Linked DNA regions of Homo sapiens: regions 1 and 3 are each linked to region 2. Evidence: fine-mapped expression QTL. A gene starts in region 2. Each other region holds a variant in brackets. All regions are shown on one strand. Distances are from middle to middle. Region 1 has its middle 31 kb from the start of HOMER3. Region 2 holds the start of HOMER3 (homer scaffold protein 3). Region 3 has its middle 42 kb from the start of HOMER3.

Region 1 (5,221 bases), 30 kb after region 2:
ACCTCCCAGGTTCAAGTGATTCTCCTGCCTCAGCCTCTGGAGTAGCTGGGATTACAGGCACGCACCACCACACCCAGCTAATTTTTGTATTTTTAGTACAGATGCAGTCTCGCCATACTGGTCAGGCTGGTCTTGAACTCATGACCTCAGGTGATCCACCTGCCTGGGCCTCCCAAAGTGCTGGGATTACAGGCGTGAGCCACCGCACCCGGCCTGAGGTTTCATTTTCTGTGGTGTTGGCTACCTTCCATCAACCTCAATCCAAACATATTAAGTGGAAAATTCCAGAAATAATTCGTAAGTTTTCAGTTGCCTGCCGTTATGAGTAGTGTGATGAAATCAGTCCCCACCCCGCCCCCTCCCACCCTGGATATGAATCATCCCTTTGTTAAGGGTGCCCACGCCATAGACACTACCAGCCGGCTAGTCACTTAGTAATCTTCTGGGTGATCAGATCAACCGTGTCAGTATTACAGTGCTTATGTTCCAGAAATCCAAATTTTATTAATTTTCTATTTTATTATGTTATTGTTGTTAATCTTTTACTGTGTCTCACTGATAAATTAAACTTTATCATAGGTATGTATGTATGCATAGGAAAAAAACAGTGCATACACGTTTGGTATTTTCTGAAGTTTCAGGAATTTACTGGCAATCTTGGAACATATTCCCCACAGGCAAGGGGGAACTATTGTATTATTTTGGTATTCAAAATAAAAGAGGCTGGGCATGGTGGCTCATGCCTGTAATCCCAGCACTTCGGGAGGCCAAGGCAGGAGCAATCGATCCCTTGAGCCCAGGAGTTCGAGACCAGCCTGGGTAACATAGTGACAGCCCGCCTTTACAAAAACTTTGAAAAGTAGCCGGGTGTGGTAGCTCGTGCCTGTAGTATCAGCTACTCTGGAGGCTGAGGTAGAATTGTCTTGGGCCCAGGAGGCTGCAGTGAGTTATGATCACGCCACTGCACTCCAGCCTGGGGGACAGCATGAGAGCCTGTCTCAAAAAATTAAAACAAAATAGCACACAGAAAAAAGTTTTTGAAATTAGCCTCAATAACTTGACAGTTTCATCCATGTCAGGGATCAAGCCTGAACTCTGGATGAATCACATATCTATTTTTTTTTCTTTTTTTGGGGGAGACAGAGTGAGACTGTCTCCCAGGCTGGAGTGCAGTGGCACGATCTCGGCTTGCTGCAACTTGTCTCTTGGCTTCACGCAATTCTCATGCCTCAGCCTCCCAAGTAGCTGGGATTACAGGCATGCGCCACCACGCCTGGCTAATTTTTGTATTTTTAGTAGAAACGGGGTTTCACCATGTCAGCCAAGGCTGGTCTTGAGCTCCTGACCTCAGATGATCTGCCTGCCTTAGCCTCCCAAAGTGCTGGGATTACAGGCGTGAGCCACCGCCCCGGCCTTGAACTTTAATTTGTCTCCTGTTCTGACCTGCCTCAGGTGGAGCTCTGCTGGGTGGGTGGGGCTGATAGCCTTTCCCGTCCTACATGAGTTGTAGATATGTGTGTGTGTGTGTATATATATGTGTGTGTTTATGTGAGTGTGTATGTGTGTGAGAGAGATGAATTCTTTTTTTCTTTTTACTTTTTTCTGTTTTTTTTTTCTAGGCGGAGTTTTGCTCTGTTGCCCAGTCTCAAGTGCAATGGAGCGATCTTGGATCATTGCAACCTCTGCCTCCCGGATTCAAGTGATTCTCCCACCTCAGCCTCCTGAGTAGCTGGGATTACAGGTGCCTGCCACCATGCCTGGTTAATTTTTGTATTTTTAGTAGAGATGGGGTTTCACCATATTGGCCAGGCTGGTCTCGAACTGCTGACCTCAGGTGACCCGCCCTCCTCGGCTTCCCAAAGTGCTGGGATTACAGGTGTGAGCCACTGTGCCTGGCCAAGAGATGTATGTTGTATTTTTTTTTAAGCAGAGGAAAGAAGTATAAACATTAAATTTAAAAACAAAACTTTTGGCCAAGCATGGTGGCTCAGTCCTGTAATCCCAGCACTTTGGGAGGCTGAGGCAGGTGGGTTACCTGAAGTCAGGAGTTCAAGACCAGCCTGCCAACGTGGAGAAACCCTGTCTTTACTAAAAATACAAAAATTAGCTGGGCATGATGGCGCATGCCTGTAATTCTAGGCACATGGGAAGCTGAGGCGGGAGAATCACTTGAACCCGGGAAGTGGAGGTTGCAGCGAGCCAAGGTTGCGCCACTGCACTCCAGCCTGGGTGACAAAAGGAGACTCTTGTCTCCAAAAAAAAAATTTTTTTTAAATTGTTTATTTTTTAGAGACAGGGGTCTTACTATGTTGTCCATGCTGTTAAACTCTCGGGCTCAAGCGATACTCTCCCCTTAGCCTCCCGAGTACCTGAGATTACGGGGCGTTTGCCACCACACCGGGCTAATTTTTTATACTTTTAATAGAGACAGGATTTCACCATGTTGGCCAGAGTGGTCTTGAACTCCTGACCTCAAGTGATCCACCTGCCTCGGCCTCCTAAAGTGCTGGAATTACAGGTGTGAGCCACCATGCCTGGCCGTTTATTATTATTTATTATTATTTTTTTGAGACGTAGTTTCACTCTTGTCACCCAGGCTGGAGTGCAATGGCGCGATCTTGGCTCACTACAACCTTTGCCTCACAAGTTCAAGCAATTCTCCTTCCTCAGCCTCCCATGTACCTAGGATTACAGGCACACGCCACCACGCCTGGCTAATTTTTTTTCACGCCATGTTGACGGGGTTTCACCATGTTGGCCAGGCTGGTTTCAAACTCCTGACCTCGAGTGATCTGCCTGTGTTGGCCTCCCAAAGTGCTGGGATTACAGGCGTGAGCCACGGTGCCCGGCCGAGAGGTATAATTTCTGTTTATTTTTTCTCTCTGCTTATCTTGTTGGCTGTTTCTTCTCCAATACAGTCACATTTCTTGGATAAGAACAAAAATATAATAAGACCGTTTTGAAAATGCAGGCAAAGAAATGCTGGAAAGCGGTCATGAACATGCCAACGGAGATTATCTCTGCGAGCTGAGCGATTAAGGGAGGGGTTGCAGG[G/A]TTTTTATTTGTTTTCTTTTCTGCTTCTTTGTTTCTCCATCAGGAAATTGACCAACATTTTTTTAATTAGGGGAAATGACAGTTACCCCGTGTGCACTTTTTGGCAGGACCTGGCCTTCAGCGTGGGTCTTGGGGCCCCCTGGCCAGTCTGAGCTCCTGTGGGGCAGTTTTTCTGGTCATCTGCAGAGGCCCCGGGTGCAGGCAGGGGAGCCCCAGCTCCTACGCGCTGCATTTCCTCAGAGGCTCCAGCACCACGAATTTTTTTTTTTTTTTTTTTTTTTAGACAGGAAATTTCTCTGTCACCCAGGCTGGAGTGCAATGACACAATCATAGCTCACTACAGCCTCGACTCCCAGGGCTCAAGTGATCCTCAGCTACCTCAGCCTCCTGAGTAGCTGGGGCCACAAGCATGTACCAACACCCATGGCTAAATTTTGTATTTTGTGTAGAGACAGGGGTCTCACCATGTTGCCCAGGCTGGTCTTGGACTCCTGGGCTCAAGTGATCCGCCCACTTTGGCCTCCCAAATTGCTGGGGTTACAGGTGTTAGCCACCACACCCAACCGAGGGCTTCATTCTCTCTGACGCTCTGTGAATAGAGTTTAGACTGTCCTCCCACCAGCACTGGGGTGAGGTAATGCAGGAAAGGGCTGGTCCCACTGGCCCAGAAGCAGATAAGAGCACCCTCCATCTACAGCCAAAAGTTAAAATCCAAAATCCAGAACCTTCCTGAGCCACCCTTTCTGTCTTTGGTGCTGGCACGGCACTGGCATGCAGTGGGTGCCATATTATTGCTCTCCAGCGGCATGGCAGGTCTTACCACTGTGGCATCAGGACCCCGGGTTTCTCTAGCTCGGGTGATGTGGATCACTTGAGAGGCCGAGGATCGCTTGAGCCCAGAAGGCTGAGCCTGCAGTGAGCCCTGATGGCACCATTACACTCTAGCCTGGGCAACAAATTGAGAATCTGTCGCAAAATAAAAGAAAAAAAGAGAGAGAGAGAGAGAGAGTTTCTCTTATTTGCAGTCTTGAGTAAGGCGTCCTGCAGGAATTTTTGTTTGTTTGTTTCTGTTTTGAGATGGAGTTTCGCTCTTGTTGCCCAGGCTGGAGTGCAATGGCGTGATCTCGGCTCACCGCAACCTCTGCCTCCCAGGTTCAAGTGATTCTCCTGCCTCAGCCTCCCTAGTAGCTGGGATTACAGGCATGTGCTACCATGCTCGGCTAATTTTGTATTTTTAGTAGAGATGGGGTTTCTCTGTGTTGGTCAGGTTGGTCTCGAACTCCTGACCTCAGGTGATCCGCCCGCCTCAGCCTCCCAAAGTGCTGGGATTACAGGCATGAGCCACCACACCCGGCCATTTATTTTATTTTATTTTATTTTATTTTTTTGAGATGGAGTTTCACTCCTGCTGCCCAGGCTGGAGTGCAATGGCGTGATCTCGGCTCACTACAACCTCTGCCTCCCGGGTTCAAGCGATTCTCCTGCCTCAGCCTCCTCACTAGCTGGGATTACAGGCGCCTGCCACCATGCCAGGCTAATTTTTTTTTTTTTTTTGAGATGGAGTCTTGCTCTGTTGCCCAGGCTGTAGTGCAGTGGCACGATCTCAGCTCACTGCAAGCTCCACCTCCCAGGTTCAGGCCATTCTCCTGCCTCAGCCTCCCAAGTAGCTGGGACTACAGGCGCCCACCAGCGCCTGTATTTTTAGTAGAGACGGGGTTTCACCGTGTTAGCCAGGATTGTCTCGATCTCCTGACCTCGTGATCTGCCTGCCTTGGCCTCCCAAAGTGCTGGGATTACAGGTGTGAGCCACCATGTCCGGCCTAATTTTTGTATTTTTAGTAGAGATGGGGTTTTACCATGTTGGCCAGGCTGGTTTTGAACTCCTGACCTCAGGTGATCCACTTGTCTTGGCCTCCCAGCCTGCTGGGATTACAGGCGTGAGCCACTGCGCCCAGCCAATTTTTGTATTTTTAGTAGAGATGGGGGTTTCACCATGTTGGCCAGGTTGGTCTCAAACTCCTGACCACAAGTGATCCGCCCACTTCAGCCTTCTAAAGTGCTTGGATTATAGGTGTGAGCCACCACACCTGACCTGGAGAATATATCTTTTTCTTTTTTTTTTTTTTTTAGATAGAGTCTTGCTCTGTCACCCAGGCTGGAGTGCTAT
Region 2 (5,221 bases):
TGGTGCTTTGGGAGGCTGAGTCAGGAGGATCCTTTGAGCCCAGGAGTTCGAGACCATCCTGAGCAACATGGCGAGACCCCATCTCTACCAAAAATTTAAACAATTAGCTGGGTGTGGTGGCATGTGCCTGCCGTCCCAGCTACTGGGGAGGCTGAGGTGGGAGGATCACTTGAGCCCAGGAGGTCAAGGCTGCAGTGCAGTGAGCTATGGTCAGGCCACTGCACTCCAGCCTGGACAAGAGAGTGAGACCCTGTCTCAAAAAAGAAAGAAATTATAAAAAGAAACAAAAAGGTAAGATAATTATTATAGATAACTCAGAGCAAGCAGACCCCATCTTTCTTTGTCTAGGGGAAGCCCCCACAACACCCTGTACAGGAGATGGCCCTCTGAGAGGAGCCTGGTGGCCGCTGACATCCAGATGTAAATTTCTCATTGTCCTGGTTATTGCACCCCCGTGAAGTCCCCTCCATCCCAGGCTGAGCTGTGGAGGCCAAATCTCTGCTGAGTTCTTTCCACCACATTCACCCATGACTGGCCAGAGCGGGGCTCTCCACCAAAAAATGGGGCGTTGAGAGGTGTGTAGTACCAGGAGACCAGTTCCCCACTACACCCTGCAGAGGGACCCCACCCCCAGCAGCTCCCACCCTAGGGCAGAAGCACACCTTGAAGTCCAGAGTCCAAATCCCCAGGGAGCCCCCAGCCAAGTTAAAAAGACAAGATGTAGACAAACAGCCAATCCCAATGCCCACCATGAGGGCAGAGCAGAATCCACACTGGGAGACCAGGGCTCCCCAACCTCCCCATTGGGCCATTCAGCAACCCCGAATCTGCAGGGGACCAAGGAGGAGTTTGGAGGAGGGGGAAGACAGGTGGGGGAGGGGAGGCCCTGGCCCAGCGGCCTCTGTGGTCAAAGGGGGGATGCCCCCCCTATCCTGTCCTGGGCAGCTGCTGTCCTGGTCACAGGGTCTGAAACCGGAGCCCCTGAGTGGGGGTGGGGCGGCAGCTCTGGCCTGGACTGGGGGCGGGTCCTGCGCCGGGTGGGAGTTGGGGAACACAGGGGTCCCCGGAACCCAGGCCCTTCCGGTCCGGCAGCTCCTGCTGCGACTTGCAGCGTTTGGGGAAAGTTACTCACCAACTAGTCATGCGCCTCGGATGCCGCCGGCCACGGGGCTCCCGGAGGGGGGTCCGACACCGCCCGGTGCCCGGGATCCCCAATCTGGCCGGTGGATGAGGCCCCATCCCATGCACCCGAGTGCGGGGGACGGGGGGGTTAATATTAATTCAGGATCCCATCCCCACCCGAGGCAGGACACCCAGTGCACGCCCCAACTCCGGGACGCGGGCTCTGACCCTGGAACTTCCGAGATTCCCGCGACGCCCCCTGTCTCTGGGTCCAGAACTTCGGGGGACACCTCTTCTGCCTCCTCCAACCCCAGGTCGGTAACTCCGGGGACTCCCTTCGTGACTCCTCCTCTAACTGGGTCCGGGACCCCGGTCCTCCGCGTTGTCCTAGACTCCTAAACTTCGAGGACCCCCTGCCACCCCTCCAGTCCCTGGGTCCGGGACGTCCGGACCCCTCCCACCCCAGTACCCCACCCCAGGTCCGCAGCTTTGGGGACCTCTTCGCAGCCTCCTCCAACGCCGGGTCCAGAACTTTGGGAACCTCCCACGCAGTCCCCTCTCAGACCCTGAATCCAGAACTTCGGGACCCCCGCGCTCCCTCCAGCCCTGGAACTTGGGGACCCCTCGCGCCGCTCCCAGTCCCGGGTCCGAAACTTCTGGGGAACCCCCACGCCCTCCCCTTGGCCCTGGGACTTCGAGGCCCCCGCGCTCCCAGCGCAGGCTCGGCAGGCCGGGCTCACCCTGCCAGGTCGGCGCCCCGCGAGTGTCCAGGCGCGAGTCGGGTGCGGCCCCCGCGGCGCTGACTCCGCGCTGCCGGGCGCCCCGCTCGCTCCCTGGCTCCCGGGCCCGCGCCCTCCGCGCCGCCCTCCACGCCGCCCGTGCCTTTGTCTGCGCCGCCGCCGCCCGCGCCGCCTCCGGTCCCATCGCGGCCGGTCCCGACGCGGCCGCCGCCCGCCCCGCCTCCCCGGGCCGCCAAGGCCGCCCCGCTGCGCCCCCTGCCGGCTTTTTGCACTGGGAGAGGGTATGGGGGAGGGGATAAGGGGGAGGGGCGGGGGCCGGGACTGGGGAAGGGACGGAGGATTGAGGGAGGGGGTTAGGGGCGGTGGAGGGGGAGTGGGGGGGGGGGTTGCGTGGGGTCGGGTTGGGAGCAGAGGGTGGGGACAGAGAGACAGACGGAGAGGGACATCTGGGATGAGAAAGAGACCCAGAAACAGAGACACGGGGGAGACAGGCGGAGAGATAGGAAGCAGATGGAGAGAGTTGCACGGACAGCGATGTGACCTCACCCTCCTGTCACCTTCTCAGGAGACAGCTGCCTCTGTCCCCACTACCTGAGGTCATAACTTTGGGCCTGTGAGGGAGGTCAGGTCCCTCCCGGGCTGACATGGGTGGCCCAGTGAGGTTGGGGAGGGGGCAGTGGGTCTCAGGGTCTGCATACAGTAAGTGCTCAATGGGTGTTGCCAGGAAACGGAAGAGATCAACTTCGGGAGGGAACGGGAAGCAAGACAAAGAGAGAGAAGCCTCTGTTCCCCTGCCCGTCCCATCCCTAAGCAGGGACGTCTGTCCACCTCTGTCCCTCCCAAGACGATGGTAAAAATGCCCACAATGGTTGGATTAAGGTTATCTTTGCTGTTGTTTGAGGGTTCCAAAATCCAAAGGCTGAGGAAATGTCTCCAACGCATGGTTGCATCCCCTCAGCCTCCACTGGCCTGCGTTTGTCACCTCTGGTCACAGGGAGCACCCCCTTCCCACACTTGCCAGGAGAGCATCCTTCCGGAGTTGAACTAGGATCCACCTCCCCAGCCCCAAGCCCATGTGTCCCACTTGTCAATCCTGGTGCCGCCCCCTCTCTGGCACCGTCTCCAAAATCACACGGTGCGGCGCCGTTGGTTCGTTTGTGGACAGAGGTCCTGCAGCTCCCTGGAACCAAGGCCTGTGGCGCCCTAAAGCTCTGATCTTACATTTGAGTTTTTCTTTTCTTTTCTTTTCTTTTTTTTGAGACAAAGTCTCACTCTGTTGCCCAGGCTGGAGTGCAGTGGCACAATCTCGGCTTACTGCAGCCTCTGCCTCCCAGATTCAAGCAATTCTCCTGCCTCAGCCTCCCGAGTAGTTGGGACTACAGGTGCATGCCACCACACCTGGCTGATTTTTGTATTTTTAGTAGAGATGGGGTTTCACCATGTTGGCCAGTCTGGTCTCGAACTCCTGACCTCAAGTGATCTGCCCCCCTCGGCTTCCCAAAGTCCTGGGATTACAGACGTGAGCCACCACACCTGGCCGACACTTGAGTGTTTTGACAACTTCAGAGAGGCTTTTGCTTTTCATCTCCAAGACCTCTGCTCCTGTCTCCTTTCCCTGTTCCTTTATTTCTGTTTCCTTCTAAGAAGAATAGTATATCTGAGCTGGCGGTTACATTACATTCAAATTACCTTTAGGTGAATTCCAGGTCAGGTTGTTTTTGGAGATTGACTCCTGCGCCAAGATCTGAGTCTTCCCCCATCCAGGCCTTTGCCCAAACTGTTCCTTCCACCTGGAATGCCCTCGCTGCAGGCATCTCTTCTGCCTTGTCCTTCCAGGCTCAGCGCCACCACCCTGTCTCCTCCTCCAGGAAGCCTCTCTGACTACCCTGGCCTTGGAAGGGATCTTGCCCTCCCCTGTCCCAATCCCTGTGACTCTTTTTTTTTTCTTTTTTAAAGTTTATTTTTAGAGACGAGGTCTCACTATGTTGCCCAGGCTGGTCTCAAACTCCTAAGCTCAAGTGATCCTCCCACCTCGGCCTCCCAAAGTGCTGGGATGACAGGTGTGAGCCCAGACCCTTTCTGTGACTCTTATGTTACCTGTTTATTACATGACCAGGTCTGGGTGCTCCTCTAGGGCTGGCCCATCCATCCTGAAGCCCCAGTCTGACCCAGCACAAGAGCGACTGTTCATCCCACAGGGGAAACTGAGGCACAGACTCGGTTTCCCTGGCTGCTTCTAACTTCACGAGGCATCTGCACAAGGGAAGGATTTGGCTCTGTTCTCAGGCCGGAAGCCACGAAATGCTTGAACATTGTGGGGAGCAAAGAAAATACCGTCTGTTCTGTGCAAAAAATGACTTTTCCTTATTACCAACAAAATAATGGAAAAAATAAAAAAGTATCTGGGAAAGGTGCTGGCATGGCCAAGGCTTCTGGAAGCTGCTTAGAGTTTGCCAAGTGCACAAGTGGGGCCCTGTGGCTATTTTACAGGGGCGGCTGGGCGAGGGGCCCAGGCAGACTTTGCCCTTTGTGTGGGCAGAAAGCAACAGTGAAAGAGACAGTGAAGGGTTGAGTTGCTTTCCTGAACACCCTCTCCGGTCTCTGGGAGGGGCTGGGACAGGGCTGGCCTTGAGCAGCCCCAACCTGAAGCTGGACTAGCCAAGTCTACACTGAGGCACTGGCTTCCTCAGTGTGGGCCTCAGTTTTCTCACCTGGAAAATGGGCCGATGCTTGCAGGGCTTCTAGTAGAGGGAGAAACATGAAGGATTTAGTCAATATCAGCAGCTGTCCTCTGGGGTGCCTGCCATTAGGTTCGTGGGCAAAGGCCCTGCCACTCTTTGCTGCAGCTGGGAAAACAGAGTCTGTGTCTCAGTTTCCCTGCTGGGATGAATAGTCACTCTTATGCTGGGTCAGACTGAGGCTTCAGGATGGATGGGCCAGCCCTAGAGGAGCACCTAGACCTGGTCATATAATAAACAGGTAACATAAGAGTCACAGAAAGGGGCTGGGCTCATGCCTGTCATCCCAGCACTTTGAGAGGCCGAGGCTGGAGGATCGCTTGAGCTCAGGAGTTCGAGACCAGCCTGGGCAACATAGTGAGACCTCGTCTCTAACGAGGGCTGCCCTGAGCTGCTGCCCCCACCCCAGTCTGGGCCCTCTTCTTCCTAGGTCTGGAGGCCTCTCTTCTAAAGAACTGGGCTGGGTGCAGTGGCTCATGCCTGTAATCCTAGCACTTTGAGAGGCTGAGGCAGGCAGATCACCTGAGGTCAGGAGTTTGGGACCAGCCTGGTCAAAACATGGTGAAACCCCGTCTCTACTGAAAATACAAAAATTAGCCGGACGTGATGGTGCACACCTGT
Region 3 (5,221 bases), 41 kb after region 2:
CTTGGCCTCCCAAAGTGCTGGTATTACAGGCGTGAGCCACCGTGCCCAGCCTGGATGTTTCTCTTATAGCACAGAGAGGGGAGAGATGTAGCATTTTATGAACCTTTGAAGAATGGAGGAGGGGGTGTGGGTGTTGGGTTTTGGGGGATGAATATGAGTTTGCCAAGTTGAAGGTGGGGGCTGACCATGAACTGAACTTTATGGAATCTAACCAACACAACAAAATAAATCTAATTTTCAAAATGAAAATGAAAATGAGCATATTCTCCTTTGTTGGCGTGAACTGCAGGAATGTTTATATGTGGACACTTCACAGGCCAGCCTGCACCAGGCCTGGCTCATGCCGGCCAGTTCCTTCCTGAAGCTATTCATGTCTGCTGCAAAGATGGGATTAAAAACAGCATGTTGGCCTCTTCATTCATTAGGAGAGTGGAGAAATGGGAAAATTTGGGCTGCCCAAACTCCTCATGATCTATGAGGATAAACAGAAAGTTCAACGCCAGCCCTGACTGAGGACCCCCCACAAGGACTTATCTTCTATGTTTTTCTTTTCTTTTTTTGAGATGGAGTCTAGGTCTGTTGCTCAGACTGGAGTGCAGTGGCATGATCTCAGCTCACTGCAACCTCCACCTCCTGGGTTCAAGTGATTCTCCTGCCTCAGCCTCCTGAGTAGCTGGGATTACAGGCTTGTGCCACCACTCCTGGATAATTTTTGTATTTTAGAGATAGGGTTTCGCCACGTTGGCCAGGCTGGTCTCGAACTCCTGACCTCAAGCAATCCGCCCGCCTCGGCCTCTCAAAGTGCTAGGATTACGGGCGTGACCCACCACGCCCAGCCTCCTTGCTCTCTGAATCTGGATCTCACTTTCTGTAAATCCAATGTGACCTTTGGCTGTTTACTGAGTACAAGACGCTCCTGATGACCCATTTTACAGATGAGGAAATTGGGGCTCAGAGAAGGCGAGAGAGCAGAGACTGGGATTCAGTGAGGAGGGTCCCAGGGGGCCTGATGATGATGATGATTATTATTATTATGGAGACTTGCTCTTTTTGCCCAGGCTAGAGCGCAGGGGCGTGATGTCGGCTCACTGCAACCTCTGCCTCCAGGGTTCAAGTGATTCTCCTGCTTCAGCCTCCTGAGTAGCTGGGATTACAGGTGTGTGCCAGCATGCCCAGTTAATTTTTGGGTAAAGACAGTGTTTCACCATGTTGGCCAGGCTGGTCTTAAACTCCTGACCTCAAATGATCCACCTGCCTCGGCCTCCCAAAGTGCTGGGATTACAGGCATGAGCCACCCGCACCCAGCCAGGCCTGAATTTTTTTAAAGACAGGGTCTTCCTATGTTGTCCAGGCTGAAGTGCAGTGGCACAATCATGGCTCGCTGCAGCTTTGAGCTCCTGGGCTTTAGTGATCCTCTCACCTCAGCTTCTCAAGTAGCTGGAACTACAAGGAATGGGCTACCACACCTGGCTAGATTTTTAAATTTTTTATAGAGACTGGGTCTCCCTATGTTGCCCAGGCTGTTCTCCAACTCCTGGGCTGAAGTGATCCTCCCACTTTGGCCTCCCAAAATGCTGGGATTACAGGTGTGAGCCACTGCACCTGATTGATGGTGAGTTTGAAGTGGAAGGTGTTTGAAGGGGTGAAAGTGTCCATCAGAAAGCAGCTGGCCAGGCGTGGTGGCTCATGCCTGTAATCTCAATCCCAGCACTTTGAGAGGCTGAGGTGGGCGGATCACCTGAGGTCGGGAGTTCAAGACCAGACTGATCAACATGGAGAAACCCCATCTCTACTAAAAACACAAAATTAGCTGGGCATGGTGGCGCATGTCTGTAATCCCAGCTACTCAGGAGGCTGAGGCAGGAGAATCGCTTGAACCCGGGATGCGGAGGTTGTGGTGAGCCGAGATCACGCCATGGCACTCCAGCCTGGGCAACAAGAGCAAAACTCTGTCTCAAAAGAAAAGAAAGCAGCTGAGACCAATATAGCTAAGGAGTGAAGAGCTGGGTTCCGATTCTGATTCTGCCCACTTGCAGGGGCTCTTCCTAGTCCTTCTGTGAACAGCATCTTGTTGTGCTTGGGGTCTTTCCCCCTTCTTAGCCAATGAAGCCCTAGCTATCAGTGTATTGTAGCCCTCTGGCCACTGTGATTGGTTCAGAGACAGGCATATGCCCCGGGCTGGGGCAATAATAGACAATCTTGGTGTCTGTGCCACCCCTATCAGACAACAGAGCTCTTGTGATGTTGCTTAAATGGGTAAGGCTAGGCTCCGAGTTGCTGGCCACCATCTTGCCTGCCTGTAAACAAAGGACAGCAAAGCCAAGAAATAGAGAGAGAGGCTGGTGGTTTTGGTTGAGTGCCTTGATCCAGCTGATCCTGAAGGTGTCCTTTCCAATTCCATCCACCAATTAATTCCCTTTTTGGCTTTATGCAGCCCAAAGAGTTCCCATGTATTCAGCCCTTAGTGCTGCAGAGACAGCACTATAAACATGTCAGTTACTTCATTCATTAGGAGAGCAGAGAAATTGGAAAATTGAGGCTGCCCTCATTGCTGTCTATGAGGATAAACAGAAAGTCAAAGACCAGGCAGGCTGTAGTGGCTCCTGCCTGTAATCTTAGCACTTTAGGAGGCTGAAATAAGCGGATCACTCAAGCCCAACAGTTTGTGACCAGCCTGGGCAACATAGTGGACCCTGTCTCTACAAAAAGAAAAAAAAAAAAAAAATTAGCCAGGCATGGTGGTGCATGCCTGTAGTCCCAGCTACTTGGGAGGCTGAAATGGGAGGATCACCTGAGCTCAGGGAGGTTGAGGCTGCAGTGCCACCGCACTCCAGCCTGGGTGACAGAATGAGACTCTGTCTCAAAAAAAAAAAAACAAAAAAAAAAAACAGCTAAAGACCAGCCCTAAGAACTGA[A/C]CTTTCTGGAAATGGCTTGGACGTCCCACCTGCCTGCCCCAGAGAGTTGTTAACCAACGTCTCTGGGCCTCAGTTTCCTCGTCTGTAAAGGGAGCTGTGGTTGCCTAAGGTGAAAGGAGCACAGGTGCCAAGCGTTCTTTGCCATGCCTGGCGCTATAAGATATCCAGTGCTATCTAGGGATGCCCCCCGGGTGCCCACCCTGGACTCCTGCTTACTTGGACTTGGATAAAAGAAGGTTTTCTGGCCAGGTGCAGTGGTTCATGCCTGTAATCCCAACACTTTGGGAGGCAGAGGCGGATGGATCATCTGAGGTCAGGAGTTCAAGACCAGCCTGAGCAACATGGTGAAACCCCATCTCTACTAAAAATACAAAAATTAGCCAGGTATGGTGGTGCCTGCCTGTAGTCCTAGCTACTTGGGAGGCTGAGGCAAAATAATTGCTTGAAACTGGGAGGTGGGGGTTACAGGGGGTTGCAGTGAGCCCAGATTGAGCTGCTGTACTCCACCAGCCTGGGCAACAGAGTGAGACTCTGTCTCAAAAAAAAAAAAAAAAAAAAAAAAAAAAAAAAAAGAAGAAGAAGAAGAAGAAGGTTTTCTGCGTTCTGAGGGACTTAGTTGCTCCCAGACATCTCTGCCTCTTGCAACAACCTGCCAAGAACGTGGAGAGCCAGAAAGGAGAGGGTGAACATCTCTGGACTGAAACAGGGAAACTGTCAAAGGCTCTAGAGTAGGCAGGTGGGACGTCCAAGCCAGAAAGGACAGGTTTGCTCTGGGTTCCTTGCAAGTGACCTCCATGGGGTTCGGGGCTGAGACGGAGCCTACAACGTTGTCTAAGGCCACATTTCAGACAACTGCCAGAGAATGGTTGTTTTACCAAATAGCTGGCCAGCACACGGGGTCTATGTCTCTGTGTCTTTTGGCTAGGTTATTCACACCCCACCCTCGTCAGCTGTCAGGGTTACCCTGGGGAATGTCAATTCCAGGCACTTCTGGTTCCAGTGGGCATTCAGGCAAAGGGTGCTCCAGCAGCCCAGGGTAGCCCTGATACCCTGCACAGGTGCCTGCCATTAAATGGGGCTGGAACCGAGGGGTATAGATGGAACAGTTCAGAATTGCTTTCATTCCTGCCCTGCCCTTCCAGACTGCTCTTTTAAAAGGTGTAAATCAGGCCAGGCATGGTGATACATGCCTGTAGTCCCAGCTACTCAGGAGGCTAAGGCTGGAGGATCATTTCAGCCCAGGAGGTCAAGGCTGCAGAGAGCTATGATCATGCCACTGTACTCCAGCCTGGGCTACAGAGTGAGATGCCGTCTTAAAAATAATAATGATAATGATGATAAATTTTTTGTTTGTTTTTGAGACAGAGTCTTACTCTGTCACTCAGGCTGGAGTGCAGTGACGCCATCCCGGCTCGCTGCAACCTCCACTTTCCGGGTTCAAGTGATCTTCTCGCCTCAGCCTCCCGAGTAGCTGGAACTATGTGTGTGTACCACCATGCCTGGCTAATTTTTGTATTTTTAGTACAAACGGAATTTTGCCGTCTTGCCCAGGCTGGTCTCAAACTCCTGACCTCAAGCGATCCGTCTGCCTTGGCCTCCCAAAGTGCTGGGATTACAAGCATGAGCCACCGCACCATGACAAAAGCCCCTCTCTACTAAAAAATACAAAAATTAGCTGGGCATGGTGGCGCGTGCCCATAGTCCCGGCTACTCAGGAGGCTGAGGTGGGAGGATTGCGTGAATCTTGGAGGTGGAGGTTGCAGTAAGCCGAGATGGCACCACTACACTCCAGCCTGGGCGACAGAGTAAGACCCTGTCTCAAAACGAAAACCAACAAATAAAAATGTGTGGTGAATGAATGAATGAATGAATGAGTGAACAGACAAGATGTAAAAAGCCGATCAGAGCCTCTGCCAAGGAGATGTCAGAGGGTTTTTCACAGCAGCCTTTGAACAATGGCCCTGGGAGGAAGCCAGGCTTATTTCCCCATTTGACACAGGAAGAAACTGTCTTGGTTCAAATCTGATCCTTTTTTCTCCTAAGACCACAGCTGCCTCCGAAACAAAGGCCGACAATTGCTGCCAGCAAGTGCTTTGCTGTTTTTACTTCCTCTAAACATTCTTCAGTGGATTTTCCTTTCAAACTGGTTGTAAGGAGGCACATGGCTGGGTGTTGGTGGGGGGTGGCACCCCTGCCCGGACCCCACACGCTTCCCTACCACGTGGCCGGTTTGGAGTAGACCCATCTTTGTGCTGAAACACAGCCCAACATTGCCATATACGGGGGGCTTGTCTACATTTTACAAG

The links. PIP is the estimated chance that this variant, and not a neighbour inherited with it, causes the effect.
Region 1: its variant is fine-mapped to the expression of HOMER3 in whole blood (TOPMed, PIP above 0.99).
Region 3: its variant is fine-mapped to the expression of HOMER3 in whole blood (TOPMed, PIP 0.98).

The regions. Positions count from the first base shown.
Region 1 is chr19:18,969,382-18,974,602 of GRCh38, forward strand. No RefSeq gene overlaps it. Among named protein-coding and RNA genes, the nearest start is that of HOMER3, 31 kb to the left of the region's middle. The variant G/A (reference allele first, on the strand shown) is at 3,055.
Region 2 is chr19:18,939,189-18,944,409 of GRCh38, forward strand. It overlaps HOMER3 (homer scaffold protein 3), which reads right to left and starts at 2,029. Exons shown (of 10, transcript NM_004838.4): 1 at 1,863-2,029. HOMER3-AS1 (HOMER3 antisense RNA 1) reads left to right here and starts at 1,066. Exons shown (of 3, transcript NR_134913.1): 1 at 1,066-1,436. RefSeq lists a silencer at 1,993-2,192.
Region 3 is chr19:18,980,502-18,985,722 of GRCh38, forward strand. No RefSeq gene overlaps it. Among named protein-coding and RNA genes, the nearest start is that of HOMER3, 42 kb to the left of the region's middle. The variant A/C (reference allele first, on the strand shown) is at 2,916.